Homo sapiens: one gene and its partners. The protein of the gene in region 2 interacts with the protein of the main gene of each other region in a pairwise test. Each region holds a gene or a part of one and is shown on either strand. Other genes may lie near its edges. The genes, in order: GNB5, MVD and EIF4EBP1.

Region 1 (3,940 bases), on a different chromosome or scaffold from region 2:
CCAGTAGTCTCTGGAAAATTCCTGAGAGGATGAAAATAAAAAAATCACCCATACAAAAAAAAAAAGTGTCAATATTATTATGAAAATAGTTTTGACCGTGAGGACCCCCTGAAAGGGTCTCAGGGACCCTCGGGGGCCCTGGATCTTGCTTTGAGAACAGCTGATCTGGGCTAATGAGCCCTTTTCCAGCCCCTCTGTGTGAGACCTCCCAGAAACCACTAAGGGCCTTGGAAGAGCTTGGCAAAGAAAGAGGTGACAGGATGATTGAGGAGAGCCACCCTAGGGAAAGCCTTCAGAGGAGGCTTTGGGACAGCCCCGGTCGGTGGAGGAAGTCCCAGAGAGGCAGTCGGAAGGGCTAGGGACCAGCTGAGGCCTGTGACCTGAAAATCCTTTCAAAAGAGGACGCCTGGAAGCCTGGGGAAGGCACAGTGGGTGGGGTAGAAGACTGGGGCTGAGGCCCAGGCCATTCCCAAGCCTGGAAGAGCTGATTGAGTGGGGATTTGTAGATCTTCATTTCCCAAACTTGCCTGCTGAGAAGAATCGTCCCACCCATGGCAGGTTCCTGCACTGCGCCTTCAGGGCCCTGCCCTGAGATCTGGACTGGGCGGGCCTGAGGTGGGCCAGGAAATCTGAGCCGGAGGCCCACTGGGGAGGCCGCGAGTGAATCTTGTCTCTGTGGATCCTTTGTAAGGATTGCCATGCTAAACCACTTGCCCTCTCATCCGTGACCGGAGAGAATTGGGTCACTCTTCCAGACATACCACAGACTCCTGCTTCTAGACAGCACTTGGCTGGAGCCAGGCTGGCCTTCAGGGTTGGTCAGTCTCCACAGGGGACTCTGGCCTCCCGTGGGCTGCCACAGGGCCAACCCCAGTGAAAGAAATGAAATGACTGAATATGTTCATGTCATTAGAAAAAGGATGCAGCAGGGGGTGGGGAGGAGTTGGTTAATGGAATCAAATTTGCAGCAAGATAGGAGTCTAGTGTTTGGCGGCACTGTAGGGTGACTATCGCTAACAATAATTTACTGTGTATTTTCAAGTAGCTAGAAGAGAGAATTTTGAATGTTCCTGTCAACCTAAATAACAAAGACAGGCTCGCTAAAGATATTTAATCAAAAGTAGGGCATTGCAACAGGAATATGTGTGCTGTAGTAAACTGTGTGCATATTCCAGGAGGTAAAGAAAAACAAAGGTGACTGGGCGCGGTGGCTCACGCCTGTAATCCCAGCACTTTGGGAGGCCGAGGCGGGTGGATCACGAGGTCAGGAGATCGAGACCATCCTGGCTAACACGGTGAAACCCTGTCTGTACTAAAAAAAAATATATATATATATTAGCTGGGCGTGGTGGCAGGTGCCTGTAGTCCCAGCTGCTCGGGAGGCTGGGGCAGGAGAATGGCATGAACCCAGGAGGTAGAGCTTGCAGTGAGCCGAGATGGCACCACTGCACTCCAGCCTGGGCGACAGAGCGAGACTCTGACTCAAAAAAACAAAGAAAAAAAAAAAGAAAAACAAAGGTTTTTAAAGGAAAAAATGAGGAGGATTACATAATGGTTTTGAAATAATTATCCTTGGCTACAAATATCAATAACAAAGGTCACACCAGTCCGAGGTTGGACAGGCAGTTGCTAGGCAGATGTCTTTGCAGAAGTAATTTTTGTGTGAGGTTGCAGCAGCCTATGTGCAAGGTTGTAATTTTTGCAGAATCTTTTGTGATCATTTTTGGTATTAGGCATACAAGCATGAGAATCCCCTCTTCATGGCCTCCCCAGCTCTATTTGTCATGGTTTGTTTTTTTAAAACACTAGTGACTCTATTTGAATTCTAACAACTTTCACATTCCCAACACAAATGATAGACATTTAAGGGATTAATATGCTAATTACCCTGATCATTACACATTGTATACATGTATCAAAATAACACACTGTACCCCATAAATACATACAATTATGTGTCAATTAAAGATCATTATTTTTAAAAATAGGACCAGAAAAAAAGATGCAGACCCTCTAGTAAGGAGATGGGATCAGGAGTGATTCCATGGTTAATTTAACCCACATAAACAACTAATCGTAAGTATGGTATGAGCGTTTATGTAAAGACTGTGACAACAGGAAATGTCTGTCTTTGAACCCAAGGTTATCTAACCAGCACACCAATGGTGAAAGATTAACTTTGTCAGAAACCAGGAACCATGAAGCAGAGGTCACTGTTTCCAACCTGTGTGTTTTCCACGGTAATTGGCAGCCTCCCCAAGGGAAATTAAAACATATGTCCACACAGAAATTTGAATGCAAATGTTCATAGCAGCATTACTCATAATAGCCCAAAGCTGAAACAGCCCCAATGTTCCACAGTGGATGAATCGATGAACAAAATATGGCGCATCCACAGAATGGAATACAAAGAAAGAAAGCGTGGACACATGCTGCAACATGGATGAACCTTGAAAATATTGTGCCAGGGGAAAGAAACCAGAGACAAAGAGCCACATGTTGTAGGATTCCATGTATATGAAAGGTCCTAATAAGCAAACTCATAAAGACAAAAAGCAGATTGGTGGTCACTTAGGGCTAGGGTGAGGAGTGACGGTTAGTGGGCACTGAGTTTCTCCGGGGGGAACTGAATTAGATGGTGGTGATTGCACAATTCTGTGAATAGACTAAAAACCACTGGACTGTAAGAGGGTGAATTTTTTGGTATATGAATTACATCTCAATAAAGCTGTTACTTAAAACGTGGAAAAAATAATAAGCAGTCACTAGCTATTCTCAATAAAACAGAAACCACATAGGTAAGACCAATATTGTCACATTTTGGTTTTGGCTGATAATGGGGCAAGTGAGCATAGTCACCGTTGCCAGAGGATTTACCATTTACAAATAAAAGTTTCTGTGGAGTGACAACCTTTTACTGTGTGCCAGGTACTGTGCTAAGCACTTTGTATATACCGATTCATGTAATCCTTGTGACAGCCCCGTGATGCCCCATTTTTAGATGGGGAGATTGAGGTTAGGAGAGTTGAATAACTTGCCCATAGCTGCACAGCTTCCAAGTTGCAGAGACAGGATTTTCACCGAGTCTTATTACAAACTGCCTCATATTGTGTGGACTGGAAATTCTATGTTGAGGTTAATTTATTCATTTGTTGTTTAGTTCTTTTCATCATTGTTGAGTTACCAATGGCAGTTCCAGAGGATTTATCATTTACCCCAAAGCTACTGCAAATCTAAGAGAAAACAATGTTCTTGCTGCTAAAGTTTAATGTACAAAAAGGTAAAATCATGACTGTCTTGCAAATAAAACATGAACATGTATCCAAGCTTTTAACTCACTGATTAATAAGGAAACCAGTAAGACGTCAAAACCAGTTCAAATGGGAATTTGATGTACAGAAATTTATATTCTAACAACACTTATTTAGTTCACTGTAAGAAATCATTTGCTTTGGCAGATTAGGCACTCAGCAGAAGCACCAGCCAGCTCAGCCTTTGGAGGGAGAATTCCATGTTGTTGGACCCATACATATCCTCTGTCCCTGCTGCCAAGAGCTCTTTGTTCATCGGCCCGTTGAGCAGACACCACAGCAGCTGCATAGAGAGGCTGGCTGACAGCCACAGAGCATGTAATTCTGTCCATCTGATTCAGGGTCTTCTCTGCAGTGGATGCCCTTTGGTGGGCATTCAGGTGAGATGCAGATATCTTCAGTCTGCCCATTCGGAGGGATTCAGCCACATATCTCTTTCCAAGATTTTCTTGTCACCAATCTTCCAGTCCTGTTCTTTTTAAGGCCCTGACCATCCAGCTAAACCATCAGCGACTGTCCATGAATCAATTTAGGTCTGTATTCTGGCCATCTCTCACTCCAGACATAGTGGACAGCCTTGAGTTTCTGCTCACTGGAAGGATTCTCCTTCACCACTGCCCTTCACAGTC
Region 2 (3,647 bases):
GAGTCCAGTCTCCCGTGTGCTCTCCAATGACTCCTGGGGAGGTGAAAGTCCCCACTCCTTCAGGGAGGGAAAGGGGGCGGGGCACTGTTCCAGCCTGGAGTGTGGGAGGGATCTGTTTCTTTTTTTCTTTTCTTTTTTTTTTTTTTTGAGAAAGGGTCTCCCTCTGTTGCCAGGCTGGAGTAAGGCTGGAGTGCAGTGGTGCCATCTCGGCTCAGTGCAACCTCCGCCTCCCAGGTTCAAGCGATTTTCCCGCCTCAGCCTCCTGAGTAGCTGGGATAACAGGCGTGCGTCACTACAGCCTGGCTAATTTTTGTATTTTTAGTAGAGATGGGGTTTCACCATATTGGTCAGGTTGGTCTCAAACTCCCGACCTCAGGTGATCTGCCCACCTCGACCTCCCAAAGTGCTGGGATTACAGGCGTGAGCCACCGCGCCCGGCCAGGAGTCTGTTTCTGTGTTGCTAGGCTGCCCTTCCTGGTCCTGCTAGGGAGGGCTGGCTTTGGTTGGCAGTTCCAGCTTCTGCAGGGCTAGGTCTAGGGCAAGCAGAAAAGAAAGCCCCGGGCTCCCCCTGCACTGTCCCACAGCCGCCCTCTGTCACCCGTGAGAGTCTCACCTGTGATGTCCAGGGTCTCAGTTGTCCCCAGTGGGAGGAAGCGGGAGAAGTCCCCTGGCCCACCTTCCTGAAAGCAGAGGTTCGCCCGGCCTGTCAGGGCAGCGGCGTCCGCCTGCAAGGGGGGCCGCTCAGTGCTGTGCGTGAAAGAGCCTCGCGAGCTGCAGGGCGTGGTTCTCTGCCAGGTGTCCGCGTTTATCACCCCTGGAACTGTCCGCCATCCTCAGAGACCTCCCCTCGCACAAAACCGAGCAGATGGTGTGCTTAGCGAAGCCGCCGTGGAATAAGACTTCAGCTGAAGCACCACGCAGCGCTCCCAGGGCAAACGTTTCCTTTCGGGCTTTCTGGAAGTTTGATTTCACGTGCTGTCCCATGGCCGTGCTGGGCAGAAAGGGGTTTATCCTGGATGTTCCTGGGGCATATGAGCAGTGAGATGTGAGGAGTTCTCAGAGCTGGGCTCCTTTTGTTTGGGAAGGTGGAGGGGAGGCAGGCCGCGGTGGGAGCGATCCGCACCTGGGCACTCACGGATGCTGGAGTAGAAGCGATGAAGGAATGGGGAGCGGGGACGGAGGTTGGCTGGCCTCCAGCTCTGCTCTGGGAGCCTGAGCTCAGTGGGGTGGGAGCAGTTCTTGCAGGCCGGGGTCTGGCAGGAGGAGGGGCACACAGGTTGTGCGGTGAGAGACGGGACTGAGGCGGATGGGGGCCGTGGGTGGGGGGTGGGGGCACCTGTGGGGAACACTGGGGGAGGGTGGGCCGGGAAGCCCACCGGCCTGGCCCTGGCTGTTCATTACAGGGGGCAAGCGCGATGAAGAGCTGGTTCTGCCCATCAACTCCTCCCTGAGCGTCACTCTGCACCAGGACCAGGTATGTGTGGACTGACGACTAAACACCACAGTGCCATTTCCAGAACATTTGTAGAACAGTTGGTACCCGTTGGGTATGGTGGCTCACATCTGCAATCCCAGCACTTGGGGAGAGTCTCTTGAGCCCAGGCATTGGAGACCACAGTGAACCATGATCGCACCACTGCACTCCAGCCTGGGTGACAGAGTGAGACCCTGTCTCTGAAACAAAAAAAAAATTGGTACTTTTTTACCTAAAGGCTAGGATGAGATGGCCTAGCGACGACTCCCAGCCAGCACGCAGTGTCTGTTCCATCTCCCAGTATTAGGAGAGCTGAGCACAGCACACATGTGCCCCCAGGTCTCGTCACACATGCGCACACCGTGCCCCAGGGGCTCCCCTGGGAGTCCCCGTCTCTTTATTCAGGATAAGGCCTGGTTGCTCCACAAGGTGTGGCCCACGCTTTCATCCCCCACGGGCTTCCCCACTGCCCAGCTGAGACTGGCCTTTCCCCCCCTGCCCTCAGCAGGGCTGACCTTGCTCGAGTGGGCAGCCATGAGGCTCTCTCAGTAGAAAGGGGTACCTGGCTGGCATCGGTCCTCAATGCTGGCCTCTGAGGTGGCCCTGGGTTTCCTTTTCAGTTAAAAACCACCACAACAGCCGTCATCAGCAAGGACTTCACCGAGGACCGGATTTGGCTGAATGGCCGGGAGGAGGATGTGGGGCAGCCGCGGCTGCAGGCCTGCCTGCGGGAGAGTGAGCTGGGGTCCCCATAAGCCCATCCCTCCCTGTTGTCAGCAGGGTCCGAGCATCCAGAAAGTGCTTCTGCCTCTGTGCCCCTCCTGAGGCAGCAGGCGGGGTGGCTGGGAACCAGACATGCCCGCTGGGCCGCCAGCTCCAGGGCAGTGGCCCACCTCAATGACCAGCTGGGCTTGGGTCAGTCTGGGGTTTTCCCGGGTAAGAAACTCTCCACGAGGAGTCTGGCAGGCAGAGGCCTGGTGTTCAGCTGTGACCCCGGGCAGGTGGGCAGGAGCAGGGCGGGCAGGGTGCTGACGGCTGGGCCACACGCTGTCTCATTGTCTCTGCAGTCCGCTGCCTGGCCCGGAAGCGGAGGAACTCACGGGATGGGGACCCGCTGCCCTCCAGCCTCAGCTGCAAGGTGCACGTGGCATCGGTGAACAACTTCCCCACGGCTGCGGGCCTGGCCTCCTCAGCGGCGGGCTATGCCTGCCTAGGTGGGTGCCCACAGAGACCCGCAGGGGTTCTGGGCTGTGGGCGCAGGAGCCACTTCATGCTCTTCCCGGGTCAGGGAGCCCACTGCTGGGCGTGGCTAAAAGAGCATCCCCTCACCCCAGGCCTCCCTGGCCTCTCTGGAGTTGTTCAGTCTCTTCCCAGAGCACATCTGAACATTTTCATCTTCCAGTTGCAGCTGGCGTGGGGCTCTCGCCTGTAATCCCAGTACTTAAGAGGCTGATGGGGGAGAAGCACTGTAGGCCAGGAGTTCAAGACCAGCCTGGGCAACATAGTGAGACCCCCCCCCATCTCTACAAAAAATAAAAAAATCTTCCCGTTGCTGTATGTGGAGCCCCTCTAGATTGTCAGTGATAGAAACCACTTCAAACTGGCTCAGCCCTAAAATAGCGATGATTTTGTGGCTCACGTAACTGAGGATTCCAATGGGCACAGCTGGTTGCAGGCCCCGCTGGACCCAGCTCTCTGCTGGCCCCAGGCCACTTGCTGGCAGCTTCCCACCCACTGTCAGAGCCTGTCCCCCCGGTGGTGGTCTCACACCATCTTCACCCCTCAACTCCAGGGGTGACGCTTCCTGGCCCACCTGGGCTCCTGCGCCTTCCCTGAACCACCCTCGGTGACCAGGGTGGGTGACCAGACCTGGAGGTGGGGTTGCCCTGCTGGAGCCCTGTGGGAGGAGGGGAGAAGGTGGCTCCCGTGCTGGGTGGGCAGGGGGCGCGTCTTGTGGAGTCCAGCTCTGTCCTGGCATCGGTCCCTGCCCCACACAGCCTTAAAATTCCTTCCCACCCTCAAAGCCCAGCTTGGGTGTCCTCGGGGGCCTTTCTCCCGCCTTCCATGGGGCTTCCTGCTCTGCCGCAGGTACCTTTTGTTGCCCTTGTCGCGGGCCGCAAGCTCTGCAGGCCGTGAACAGAGAGTGTCCGAGAGTGGAACTAGCGGAGGTGGG
Region 3 (3,647 bases), on a different chromosome or scaffold from region 2:
TCTAAATCGTGGTGTGGAGAGCCAGGCTTTTGATAGAGTGTCTGCATGGCTGTCTGCACCTGCTTACTTATAGGGACTGTCAGCTTCTCAGGAAAAACCATTGGAGTAAGTACCCCCCAGTCACTCCTGCTGGGAATGGCCCTCAAGTGATTGTCCCTGGAGGGAAAGAAGCAGCAGTTGGGTTGCACTATCTCCATTCCTATGACTCCAGTTTGCTTTCCTTTTTTTTTTTTTTTTTTTTTGAGATGGAGTTTCGCTTTGTCGCCCAAGCTGGAGTGCAATGGTGAGATCTTGGCTCACTGCAAGCTCCGCCTCCCGGGTTCACGCCATTCTCTTGCCTCAGCCTCCCAAGTAGCTGGGACTACAGGCGCCCGCGATCAAGCCCGGCTGATTTTTTGTGTTTTTAGTAGAGACAGGGTTTCACCGTGTTAGCCAGGATGGTCTCGATCTCCTGACCTCGTGATCCGCCTGCATTGGCCTCCCAAAGTACTGGGATTACAGGCGTGAGCCACTGCACCCGGCCCTTTTTTTGTTTTTTTCCTGAGACAGGGTCTCATGGTGTCACCCAGGCTGGAGTACAGTGGCACAAACATAGCTCACTGCAGTCTCAAACTCCTGGGCTCAAGTGATCCTCCTGCCTCAGCCTTGCAAGTAGCTGGGACTATAGGCACGTGCCACCATGCCCTGCTAATTTTTTTATTTTTTTGTAGAGGCAGGGTCTCTATGTATTACCCAGGCTGGCCTCAAACTCCTGGGCTCAAGCAGTCCTCCCACCTCAGCCTCCCAAACTGCTGGGATTGTAGGCATGAGTCACCTCACCTGGCCTCCAGTTTGCTTTCCATGGTCATTAACCATTTGCACACTGAGGCTCTGCTCTGAGGTTAGCTGTCCAGAGTACTTAAGATAATTTAATTGCCGAAGGGAGTGTCATGTATGAATATTTGAGTCTGTGGAGTCTTAAAAATATCCAGCGACACCATAAACAGCTCATTAGCCAGCAGAACCTTTGAGTGGGTCAGAAAGAAACTTTCCCTCATCAATCTCCACATTCCCAGCTCCGTGTTGCATGTTTGACTCTGAAGCCTATATACAGGCTTGGATGGCAGTTGTGCCAAAGACCCGTACCTGGATAAGGTGAATCCGAGGTGAGCAGGTAGGGCTGCAGGTGTTAATGGCACCCTGTTTGGTTAAGCAAACAAGGTCTGTGCCCAGGAAGCTTACCTTGGAGCAGCTCCCAAGTCTTTGGACATGAAACAGGCAGTGCTGGGAAGAAGGGGATGTAGGCTGGGCACCAAAGCCAGAGCACAGCCCATGTCCTGAGGCCTTAGTCACATGGAGGGAAGAAATTATTAAGGATGGGTTAAAAGAGCTTGGACATTAATGCAGTGAGGGAGAAACGATGGACCCTCTTCTCACATTTACCTGAGCTTCCTTTTAAAGTGTTTGAAGGAGCTGGGTGCGGTGGCTCACTCCTGTAATCCCAGCTATTAGGAAGGCTGAGACAGGAAAATTACTTGAGGCCAGGAGTTCAAGACCAGCCTGAGCAACATAGTGAGACTCTGTCGGTATAAATTAAATAAATAAAATTTTTTAAAGTGTTGGAAGCATTCCACACTGTGTCCCTTATTAAAGATTTGGTGGGGGGTTCCTGGTGTAGAGCACTCCAAAATCCCTCCAATCCCCAGACTCCTTTTTATTATTATTATTATTTTGAGACAGAGTTTCGCTCTTGTTGCCCAGGCTGGAGTGCAGTGGTGCAATCTTGGCACACTGCAACCTACGCCTCCTGGGTTCAAGTGATTCTCCTGCCTCAGCCTCCCAAGTAGCTGGGATTACAGGCATGTGCCACCACACCCGGCTAATTTTTGTATTTTTATTAGAGACAGGGTTTCACCATGTTAGTCAGGCTGGTCTCAAACTCCTGACCTCAGGTGATCCACCCGCCTCAGCTTCCCAAAGTGCTGGGATTACAGGCATGAGCCACCACACCCGGCCTTATTATTTTATTTTATTTTATTTTATTTTTGAGGCAGTCTAACTCTGTCGCCCAGGCTAGAGTGCAGTGGCATGATTTCAGCTCACTGCAGCCTCCACCTGCCAGGTTCAGGCTGAGACAGGAGAATCCCGGGTAGCTGGGATGACAGGCACGCACCACCATGCCCAGCTAATTATTTATTTATTTATTTATTTATTATTATTTTCCTCAAGATGGAGCCTTGCTCTGTCGCCCAGGCTGGAGTGCAATGGTGCGATCTCGGCTCACTGCAACCTCCACCTCCTGGGTTCAAGCAATTCTCCTGCCTCAGCCTCCCGAATAGCTGGGTTTACAGGCGCGCTACCACGCCTGGCTAATTTTTTGTATTTTTAGTAGAGATGGGGTTTCACCACGTTGGCCAGGCTGGTCTCGAACTCCTGACCTCGTGATCCGCCCGCCTCAGCCTCCCAAAGTGCTGACATTACAGCCATGAGTCACCGCGCCCGGCCTATTTTATTTTATTTTTGAGGCAGAGTCTCATTCTGTCACCCAGGCTGGAGTGCAGTGGCACCGTCTCAGCTCACTGCAGCATCCGCCTCCTGAGTTCAAGCAATTCTCCTGCCTCGGCCTCCCGAGTAGCTGGGACCACAAACCCGGCTATTTATTTTTGTAGAGACAGGGTCATGCTTTGCTTCTGAGTCTGACCCTCTAGTTTTTTATTATTTGAAAGGAGAGGCCAGGTGCGATGGCTCACACCTGTAATCCCAGCACTTTGGGAGGCTAAGCAGATCACCTGAGGTCAGGAGTTCAAGACCAGCTTGGCCAACATGGTGAAACCCCATCTCTAATAAAAATACAAAAAAAAATTAGCCGGGCCTGGTGGCAGGCGCCTGTAATCCCAGCTACACAGGAGGCTGAGGCACGAGACTCACTCGAACGATTCTGGGTGACAAGAGTGAAACTCCGTCTCAAAGAAAAAAGAGAGAGAGTTTGATTTTTTTGCTTCCTAAAAGACCAAAAAAGTCCTTCATTGCCAAATCTGAGGAAAAAGGGTCAGCAGAGCAATACCATATTTATCCATTGACATAAAGTAGCGAGGCATTTTCTCATATAGACCTTTATTTTCATGTTCTGGAAGATGAGTTAGGAAGGCACAGCAATATTGTTTCTTCTTTTTTTTTTAATTTGAAACAGGGTCTCACTTTGTCACCCAGGCTGGAGTGCAGTTGCAGCCTCAACCTCCTGGGCTCAAGCAATCCTCCCATCTCAGCCTCCCAAGTAGCTGGGACTACAGGCATGCACCACCACAACCGGCTAATTTTTGTATTTTTTGGTAGAGATGAGGTTTCGCCATGTTGCCCAGGCTGGCCTCAAACTCCTGAGCTCAAGTAATCCACCCGCCTTGACCTCCCAAAGTTCTGGGATTAGAGGCATGCTCCACTGTGCTTGGCCTGGGAAGGCACAGCAATATTGAAAAAAAGGAACATTGCTTTCTAAGGTGAGTTTTAAAAAAAAAAAATGTTCAGTTGTGCACATAGATTCTTGCCTGTGCCAACAAACCCATGAAAAACCTGTTTCTTTCTGGTCTGACTTAGACCCATGCCTGGGGTCTCTCTCCATTATGATTCATAGCGAATGAATCACACGTTTTTGTTTACGTGTTTGTTCCCTA

Evidence for each region.
Region 1: the proteins of MVD (region 2) and GNB5 interact in a two-hybrid assay, tested with the Homo sapiens proteins (one large-scale study listed by BioGRID and IntAct).
Region 3: the proteins of MVD (region 2) and EIF4EBP1 interact in a two-hybrid assay, tested with the Homo sapiens proteins (one large-scale study listed by IntAct).

Annotation. Positions count from the first base shown.
Region 1 is NC_000015.10:52,114,486-52,118,425, reverse strand, and holds the end of GNB5 (guanine nucleotide-binding protein subunit beta-5), read left to right. Parts: 3' UTR 1-3,326; downstream 3,327-3,940. UniProt on the Homo sapiens protein: Enhances GTPase-activating protein (GAP) activity of regulator of G protein signaling (RGS) proteins, such as RGS7 and RGS9, hence involved in the termination of the signaling initiated by the G protein coupled receptors (GPCRs) by accelerating the GTP hydrolysis on the G-alpha subunits, thereby promoting their inactivation.
Region 2 is NC_000016.10:88,656,477-88,660,123, reverse strand, and holds part of MVD (diphosphomevalonate decarboxylase), read left to right. Parts: intron 1-1,403; coding exon 1,404-1,474; intron 1,475-2,094; coding exon 2,095-2,209; intron 2,210-2,541; coding exon 2,542-2,688; intron 2,689-2,876; coding exon of another isoform or gene 2,877-2,978; intron 2,979-3,647. UniProt on the Homo sapiens protein: Catalyzes the ATP dependent decarboxylation of (R)-5-diphosphomevalonate to form isopentenyl diphosphate (IPP).
Region 3 is NC_000008.11:38,033,523-38,037,169, forward strand, and holds part of EIF4EBP1 (eukaryotic translation initiation factor 4E-binding protein 1), read left to right. Parts: intron 1-3,647. UniProt on the Homo sapiens protein: Repressor of translation initiation that regulates EIF4E activity by preventing its assembly into the eIF4F complex: hypophosphorylated form competes with EIF4G1/EIF4G3 and strongly binds to EIF4E, leading to repress translation.